Homo sapiens: one gene and its partner. The gene in region 1 interacts genetically with each later gene. Each region holds a gene or a part of one and is shown on either strand. Other genes may lie near its edges. The genes, in order: LPAR6 and SPPL3.

Region 1 (4,112 bases):
TCATAAGCAACACGTGACAGTATATTACTTTCTAAATGCCAAGTACTATATTTCACTATCTCTGATGTTTCTCCGACCTAACATACTTAAAACATAAGTTCTTGACTGTGATGTAAGTGCACCTTTAAAATGTACCTCTGGTAGTATTTTATTTTTTTGCTAAGTAAAAACTTAGCAAAATGACATTTTATTAGTTTTCTCCCTCTCAATTTTTGTGGCATATATCATTTTGAAATTGGGTGCATTATATACAGAAAATCAAAATAGTAACTTCAAAGCATACCATATAGATAGCATCTGCTTTCTACAAATTGCCTACACAGACCAAACTCCCAAAATGTTATCAATGTGTTACTGCTCAAGATCTTCCAACAATGTTAATATGTCATCATTTCTACAGAAGACTACGTTTTTAGTTATACATATATTTTAAAATACTCCCAAAACATTTATTTCAAATTACTCTTCTTTCTCATTTGTTAATCATAGTTTAAGAAATATGATTAGTAGTTTTAATTCAAAATAAAAATGGTATGTTGAATAAAATATTACATAAACATAAATTAGTATAAAATAATTTAGTAAATTAAATCATTTAATATAAAAAGGAATTCAAAGACATTACAGATTGGCACCACATAATTTAAGTCAGTCACTTTTAGACACTAAATAACTTTAAGAGATTTTTTTTAATGAAGGAACAAATCAAAATGGCTCAGAAAAATCAGATGGAGTGGATACACAAATAAAATACATGTTAATGCTTAACACATTGAATACAAATTTTCTTTATACTAAAGACTTTAAAATGTCCATGTGTTAATTTCTTTTGGAGGTGGAAAAATAGTTTGTCCAAAAAGACACTTTTCACAGTTGAAGGAACTTGAAAGTTCTGTCCCAGTGAGTCCTAATGGTTTTATTTCAGGCAGCAGATTCATTGTCAAATATCTTACTTTTTAAGGTCTGTAGGTTATGCTGAATAAAATTCTCTGCACCATGAACTTCAGAGAATCTGAAGTCACTTCTCCTGACAGACCAGTTTTTCATTTTTATTGAATTCTGAATTGTGTCCGATGTAAAGTAGTAAACTATAGGGTCAAAACAACAGTTGGAAACAGCAATACAGAGAGTGATTGGGTACATTGTCCTTACTGCTGCCACTACTGAGCAATTAACAAATGTTTGTGTTCTCACAAGAGAATATAAAATAAGATTGATATTGTAAGGAACAAAACAGAAACAGAATATGATCAAATGTACAAAAATCATTTTTAAAACCTTAGTTTTGTTTATTTTGCTTCTACTTAATGTAACAGGTTTGGTTAAAGTTTTTAGCACCATACTAGAACAAGTTACATTTAAAATTAGAGGAATAAAAAATCCCACTATTTCGATGAAAATTACAATCCTTGAGAGATATGTTTTCCATGTGGCTTCTGGAAAATTTTCAAAGCAGGCTTCTGAGGCATTGTTACCCTGAGAGTGGGTAGACTGAACAAAAACGGCGGGTGCACTTCCTCCGATCACAGTTAACCACACGCCAGTGCAAACAATCTTTGCATTTCTTTTGGTTCTTAGAGTCTTTGACTTAAATGGGTAGACAATTGCCAGAAATCGATCTACACTAATACAGGTTAAGAACAGAATGCTTCCGTACATGTTGGTATAAAACAGCATCACAGAAATCTTACAAAGTAAATCTCCAAATGGCCAATTCCGTGTTGTGAAGTAAAAAATCCTGAAGGGTAAAGTAAAAACAAAAAGCAAGTCTGACATTGCCAAGTTAATCATGTAAGTTGTAGTTTCATTTCGGACTTTGAGGACGCAGATGAAAATGTATATGGCAACACAATTGGATATTAACCCAAGCACAAACACCATGCTGAACATGCACCCATACAAAGTGTACTTAAAGGAGTCATTATAGAAGCAGTGGGAGCTGTTAACGCTTACCATCGTAAAGGCACGTCCAATTTTCAGTTTGGAAGCACTTTCATCAGCTGCAGTCTCCTTTGGGATTCAGATTATAACCTCTATAACCTCCAATTTATTTGCAAATTATCTGGATCTTTGGATGGTTTTATAAATATTTCCTTTTTCTCAGAAATACCCAAAAGAAACATGAAATTTGTTGCTGTAAAATTTCCGCTGGGTTCTTCAACAGGAAAATATTTTCATTTGTTAGTCTTTAGAAAATCCATGAATTCCAAGGCTCAGTTAACTGACGAGCAACCTTTAAAAAATACAGTCAACGAGTCCAACCCATAGGATTATAAATTTAAAGAAAAGCTGTGATCTGTGACCAGAATGAAACCACTTGTCTTCTAAACTTGTATTTCAGTAGTCAAGATGAATACTCCAAAGTTAATGTTTCTTTATGCCTCAGAATGTTAAGCTTAAGTTATCAATCTTATTTTCTTTTCAGTGCAGAGTTTCAGAGACTTAAACATTCCCAATTTGTCCCATTTTACTTCTTGCTTCTTTTAAATGAAGTTTTCCTTTTTTGTTTTCCTGCAGTGGATCCCAGATTGTGGGTAAGCAGAAGAGTCTTTTAAAGATTCCGAAATAAACTCCCAAGCTTGTTAGCTCTTGTTGAATTGAGGCCTTTTCCTCAGTTGCCAGTTGTATCTTGAGGTCGCTTTCTCTGAAGTGAAAAAGAAAGGCTTCCTAGATTTGTAATATGACATCACAGGAAGAAGAGGCTGGGTTTGGACAAAGAAACTTTCAGCCCAGTTTGTTTGCACTTCCTTTAATCTGATAATGTGTCTGCTGGGAATATACCTAGGAGGCTTGCAAATGGTCACTGGCTGTTGAACTGCGTGGTCTGCTCATTAACTCTTTTTATGTGGAAATGCCTTCTGCGGTGCTGGCAACCTCTCAGAGTTGTTTTGATTTGTTTCAGTAGTAATAATTGAAAGAAAAAAATCACTATTCAGCCTGTTCTCTTATTCGATTGTTTTCGTGTTTGGGATATGACAATTTAGAAAAGAAAATGTGTATGGGTGTGTATTTATAAATTGAAATTGTTAGTGATATCTTAACATAGCATTTCAAAGAACTGTTTAATGACTATGAAACAGGGGCCTTTAACCTTTAAGGTATAACAAGCATTTGACTCTTGGTTTCTGAAAAATACTCAATATTTAATTGTTATCATTATGAGTAGCTCTTATCCTGGGTCTCATTAGTTTTTGATAAGCAATTTTCTAACATTCTTTCCTCTTTCCTATGCAGTTGTATTAATATTTTAGAGCTGTTTAAATTTTTAAATTACTCATTTCTCCAAAAGAACAAACTCAAGAATGTTTATCTTTGGTGTGGTGTTAATTTTACTTTCTAAGCACAAAATGAAATTGCATCTTTTTAAGCAAAATTTTTTTAACCTTAAATTGATTGAAATAAGGTTTAGAGAATAAAAATCCTACTACTTGGCAAAATTTTAGGTTCATAGTCTTATCTTCCTTCTTCCTCCCAGCTCTTCCCTTAACCCCTTAATATGACATTAACTATATATTGAAATATATTTCAGATTTTGTCTCCATCTAAAAGTTTCTATGAATGGTTTATATGTTTATATTTAAAGTATACTCATATTTTGGGCCAGGTGCAGTGGCTCACGCCTATAATCCCAGCACTTTGGAAGGCCGAGGCAGGTGGATCACCTGAGATCAGGAGTTTGAGAGCAGCCTGGCCAAAATGGCGAAACCCCATCTCTACCAAAAATACAAAACTAGCCTAGGGCAATAGTGCGTGCCTGTAGTCCCAGCTACCCAGGAGACTGAGGCAGGAGAATCGCTTGAACCTGGGAGGCAGATGTTGCAGTGAACCAAGATCAAGCCACTGCACTCCAGCCTGGGCGACAGCGAGACTATCTCAAAAAAAAAAAAAAAAAGTATACTTATATTTTAAAGACTCCAAAATCAGAAGAAGAAAGTGTGTGTAAGGTGAGGGTACTTAAATGTAGGTGTTATTTCCTCAAAGATTGAGGATATCACAACCTCTATGGCACATGTTTTTCTTGTTTTAAATATCATTTTCTTCAGAAAAGGCTAGATCTAGTTATGCCTTACTGTTATTATTTTTTTAATTTGGTCTAGTTTAAGCTGAAACTC
Region 2 (4,562 bases), on another chromosome or scaffold:
TTGGGCAAGCTGCAGAGAAGCTTGAGTACGTTGGTTTCAGGTGTGTGAGTTTTGCCTTCTGCAGAGAAACAGGGGGGTGAAGGGTGGGGGTGGAGGGGTGTCCAGGAGGGTTAGTGTATCTGTTGCCCAGGCATGTTTCTAAATTCTGAAGCTGCACTGGTTAATCATTTTTATTCATGAACACAGTAACTGGCAAGGAGGCTTAGCTGGGCCCTCAAAGTCTGGCCTCAGTGCACCTTCTCAGTATATTTTCTCAACACTCCAGCACAAATCACCCATCCCACTCTCGGATTCAAGCTCACCAGGAATTGGGCCTTACTTCATGCCATTCTTTCTTTCTAGAATGCCTTTTCTTTTTTTTTTTTCTTTTTCTTTTTCTTTTTCTTTTTTTTTTTTTGAGACAGAGTCTCGCTGTTGCCCAGGCTGGAGTGCAGTGGCGCAATCTCGGCTCACTGCAAGCTCTGCCTCCGGGGTTCACGCCATTCTCCTGCCTCAACCTCCTGAGTAGCTGGGATTACAGGCGTCCACCACCACGCCCGGCTAATTTTTTGTATTTTTAGTAGAGACAGGGTTTCACCGTGTTAACCAGGATGGTCCCGATCTCCTGACCTCATGATCCACCCACCTCGGCCTCCCAAAGTGCTGGGACTACAGGCGTGAGCCACCGCGCCCGGCCAAAAGAATGACTTTTCTTTGATAAGCCTCTCACCCTTTCAGACGGCCTCATCCACTCCTGGGGAAGCATTCCGCAGTACCTGGGGCCTCAATTAATCTCTCTCTTCTCTCTCCATCTAAGCTCCAGATTCACTTTGTTGGTCTCTGGTCTAGCTCTACCGTGTTTATTTCTGTGCCGGTTTCCAGACCTCCAAATGGACGGTTTCCTGAGCCTTCTGCCCTTGCTGTTCCCTCTGCCAGGAACTCTTTTCCTGTGGATCTTTGCAAGGCCAGCTCTCTGTCATCATTCAATATCAGCTCAAATGTCACCTCCTAAGCGAGGCCTTCCTTGACCACCCTATCTAAAGTAACCCACACCTCTGCTCACTCTCTGTCCCCTCACCTTGTGTTACAAAATGTGTTTTTGTAAAACTTAGCAGCATCTGAAATTATCTTATTTGTGGGCTTGGACTATGTCTCTTCCTTTAGAATGTAAGCTCTAGGAAGGCAGAGTGAGTTGACACATGGTTGGCACCCAACAAATATCTGTTGATTGATTCTGTGAAGGCAAGCGTGGGGTATTCGACTTGGTGCCGGGCCTGGGCGCAATAAAGGTTGGCTGCCTGGAATATTTGCTACCTGAATGAATGAACCAAGGAACATACGAACGAAGGAATGCAGCCCTCTGCCTGTTGACTGACAGGTTGACTGACAGTTGGGGGGCCCGTGGCCAGCAGACTGTTGACTGACGGTTGACAGCTGAGTGGCAGCCAACAGACGCGCATCGGGGTTCCCGATTGGCTGGTGCAGCAGCCCCTCGGAGAGGGGCGGAAGAGGGTACCCGAGGCGACATCTCCGCGTGGGGAGGGGGGCGGCACCAGGCAGCGGGAGGCGGCCCAACTGCTCTGGCTGTGCGAGCAGCAGCCGCCTAGAACCCAGGAGCCGACGTCTCTGCGCATGGGCCCGGCTCGAGGGGCGGGGCGCGCATCACGTGAGCGTGTTTTGGGCACGTGACCCGCGCGGGGCCAAGGCTCGCCCCCGCCCCCGCCCCTCCTCCCCTCGGCGGGTGTGATCGAGTGGCCTCGCCTCATCGCCTAGCGCCCCCCTCAGTCGCCGCCGCCTCCGCCCGCCGGCCATGTCCCCCGGCCGCCGCCGCCGCCGCCCGAGCGCGGCGCTCCCGCGGCCCCGCGCGCAGTGAGCGCGGGCCCGTCTTGCCGTTCGCCCGCCCCAGGGCCCCCTTGTTCTCCGCGCCGCCGCCGCCGCCATGTTGGGTTTGGAGCTGCAGCGGAGCCGCCGCCGCCGCCGCGGGTGAGGGAGGCCGAGAGCGGAGCCCGCCCCGCCCCGGGGCCCAGGGAGCGGGGCCGCTTCGGAGCCCGGCCTCTCCCCGCCAGCCGCCTTCCCGGCCCGCCGTGCAGCCAGCGAGCCAGCGAGCGAGCAAGCAAGCAAGCACCGGACCCCGGCCGCGCCTTCAGCTACGGCCCGAGCGAGCCCGCCGCCGCCGGGCCCGGCCACAGCCTGCAGCGGAGCCCACGAGAGGCAGCGCCATGGCGGAGCAGACCTACTCGTGGTGAGTGCGGGGCTCCGGGAGGCCGGGAGGCGGCAAGGGTGGGGGTCGGGGCGCCGGCGCGGCCCGCCGAGGGGAAGAGGAGGAAGAACAGGTGCGTGTCGTGGGGGGGGGGCGCGGGTTGGGGTGCACGCCCCCCTCTTCCCCACCGGAGGGGGCGGCTGGCGCGCACGGAGGGCGGTGAGTGGCCGGGGACCTGGCGTCCGAGAAGGGGAATGGAGGAGGAGGCAGCGGCGGATGTCATCTGGCTATGGGCGGAGCAGGTGATGGAGAAGGGGAGCATGACCCCGGGGGTGGGAATCCCACGGATGGGAAGTTGAATCCGACAGGCACCCCGGAACTGACTCGTGGGGGTGTTTCCTGGGCAGGAGGACTCGAAGGGGTGGAGAGAGGCAGGCCAGGGCAAAGGTGGGCCGCTGGGCTGAGAGGAAGCTCTAGTGAGAACAGGTGATAGAGGCAGAACTTCTAAGTTGGGAGAGTGGAGCGGCCGCCGCTTGGCTCTGGGACAGGGAGCGCAGGGAGAGTTGGTGAGGTGGGCAGAGGCCCGGGAGTGAGGGGAGGAAAACTGCGGGGGTAGAGTCCACGAACCTTGGAGGGGAGTCACTGGTGAAGAGGTTGGAAGAGGAGCCTGAAGAACCTGTTTCCTTTTCCTTCTGGAAAAGGAATTCGTTGGTGACAGTGGGGCATGGGCAGAGTCTTTGTAAGGGTTGGTACTATTATTTTCAGAGGAATGGCGCCCAGGGCCAAGTGTGGAGGTGGAGGACCTGCAAGTTAAGTTCATTTCTGTGGGGCTTTTAAAGTTAGTAAGTAGCTCGTTAAGGGCCGAGAAGCGAGAAGCTACTGTGTAGTTTATGGGGTGACAACCTACATATCCGGAGAAGGGAGTGCCAGGGTTTGGGGGAAGGAACATGAGGGGTCTCCCTTTAGCATGTAGAGGTGGGATATTTGCAGGACGGGTTGAAGGAATGATGGCAGTATCCATGAAGAGTGGAAATCGGGTAGTGAGAAGGAAGTCATAGCTGGAGAGTGAGGAAGCAAGAAATGGCATGATCGTAGGAGTGGGGGACCTGATTGCAATTTAGAGAAATGGTTTGAAGATGGTTTACTCTTGAAGCAAATGTGGTTTGGGACAGAACTGTAGACATTCCCTTCTTAGAAAAGAGCATAATAGAATGGGACGAGCATGCCGTGTGGAGTTGGAAGACCTATTTCGGAGGTCCGGTTTGCCACCAACTTGCTTTGTTGATACGACATGGTAGTGAGTTCTTCGGTCCTTTTTCCTTACCTATAAAATAGAGGGAATTACCTTTTCCACAGCCTGTAAGGATTAAGTGAGTACATTTAGAAAGCACTTGGCAAACTGTGAAGTGCCACAGATCTTACTACATTAATTATAATTATCCTAGAGAAACATCTAAGAAATGGGTAATATCAGAAAATAAGGAATGGTTTTAGGTAGAAGACTTTGAGTGGATTATTTATAGTGTTAGAGGTTATAAGTCAGTAACTCATTGAGTCTTCACATAAGAGAAAGGGAGTTGGGGATTGAAGATGATAATTCTTAAGAGAACTTCATTGATGTATGTGCAATCTCAAGAAGAAGGTAACTGAGAGACAAAGTAACCCTAAAGGAAGAATTAAAATCTTGGTGAACACGTGCTCTAAAAAGAGGTTTAAGCTAATTTCATAGTTTTGCGTGACAGCTGCCTTTCAGTAGCAGGTCGTAGGGAACACAAGATTACAATTTCAGCTTCCTTCTGGACAGAGTAAGAAATGAAGGTAAAGGTGTTTCTGTCATGCCTTGTGGTTACTCATCTTGAGCTTCTCATACTCTGGCCCTAATGGCTGTGGCCCTGAGAGTCCTAATGGCTGCTTTGCTGTTTTTACTGTGCTGTACAGAGGCCCTGGATGGTTGAAAGAATAGAAAACTCAGTGGTCAAGAAATGGGGAAAATGAAAATGTTTTACTAGGTAGGTTGGACACACACGACCTCTCTCTGACATTAGTTGGCTCTATTAAGGAGGGATTACTTTGTGAAGTTTGACAATTTACAAATTTATTCTACTAAAATACTTCCTTCAATGTCAGCTCTGTTTGCTTTACAGGCAAAGAAACTCCTTGAAATCGGGGAGCTTAGCCCCTCAACCTTTGGCAGGTTTTGAGATGAAGAAAATTTTTACATTATCTGGAGAGAGGGTGGCATATAAGGGGAGACTGGGGAAAGTGGGCAGTTTCCTTTTTTTTTTTTTTTTTTTTTAGGACGGAGTCTCGCTCTGTCACCCAGGCTGCAGTGCAGTGGCGCCATCTCGGCTCACTGCAGCCTCCGCTTCCCGGGTGCAAGCAA

What was found.
Region 2: changes in LPAR6 (region 1) and SPPL3 together harm fitness less than expected from each alone (positive genetic interaction), as found in Homo sapiens cells (one large-scale study listed by BioGRID).

The regions. Positions count from the first base shown.
Region 1 is NC_000013.11:48,410,468-48,414,579, forward strand, and holds LPAR6 (lysophosphatidic acid receptor 6), read right to left. Parts: upstream 2,647-4,112; 5' UTR 1,957-2,646; coding exon 922-1,956; 3' UTR 671-921; downstream 1-670. UniProt on the Homo sapiens protein: Binds to oleoyl-L-alpha-lysophosphatidic acid (LPA). Intracellular cAMP is involved in the receptor activation. Important for the maintenance of hair growth and texture.
Region 2 is NC_000012.12:120,901,504-120,906,065, reverse strand, and holds the start of SPPL3 (signal peptide peptidase-like 3), read left to right. Parts: upstream 1-1,707; 5' UTR 1,708-2,198; coding exon 2,199-2,221; intron 2,222-4,460; exon of another isoform or gene 4,461-4,562.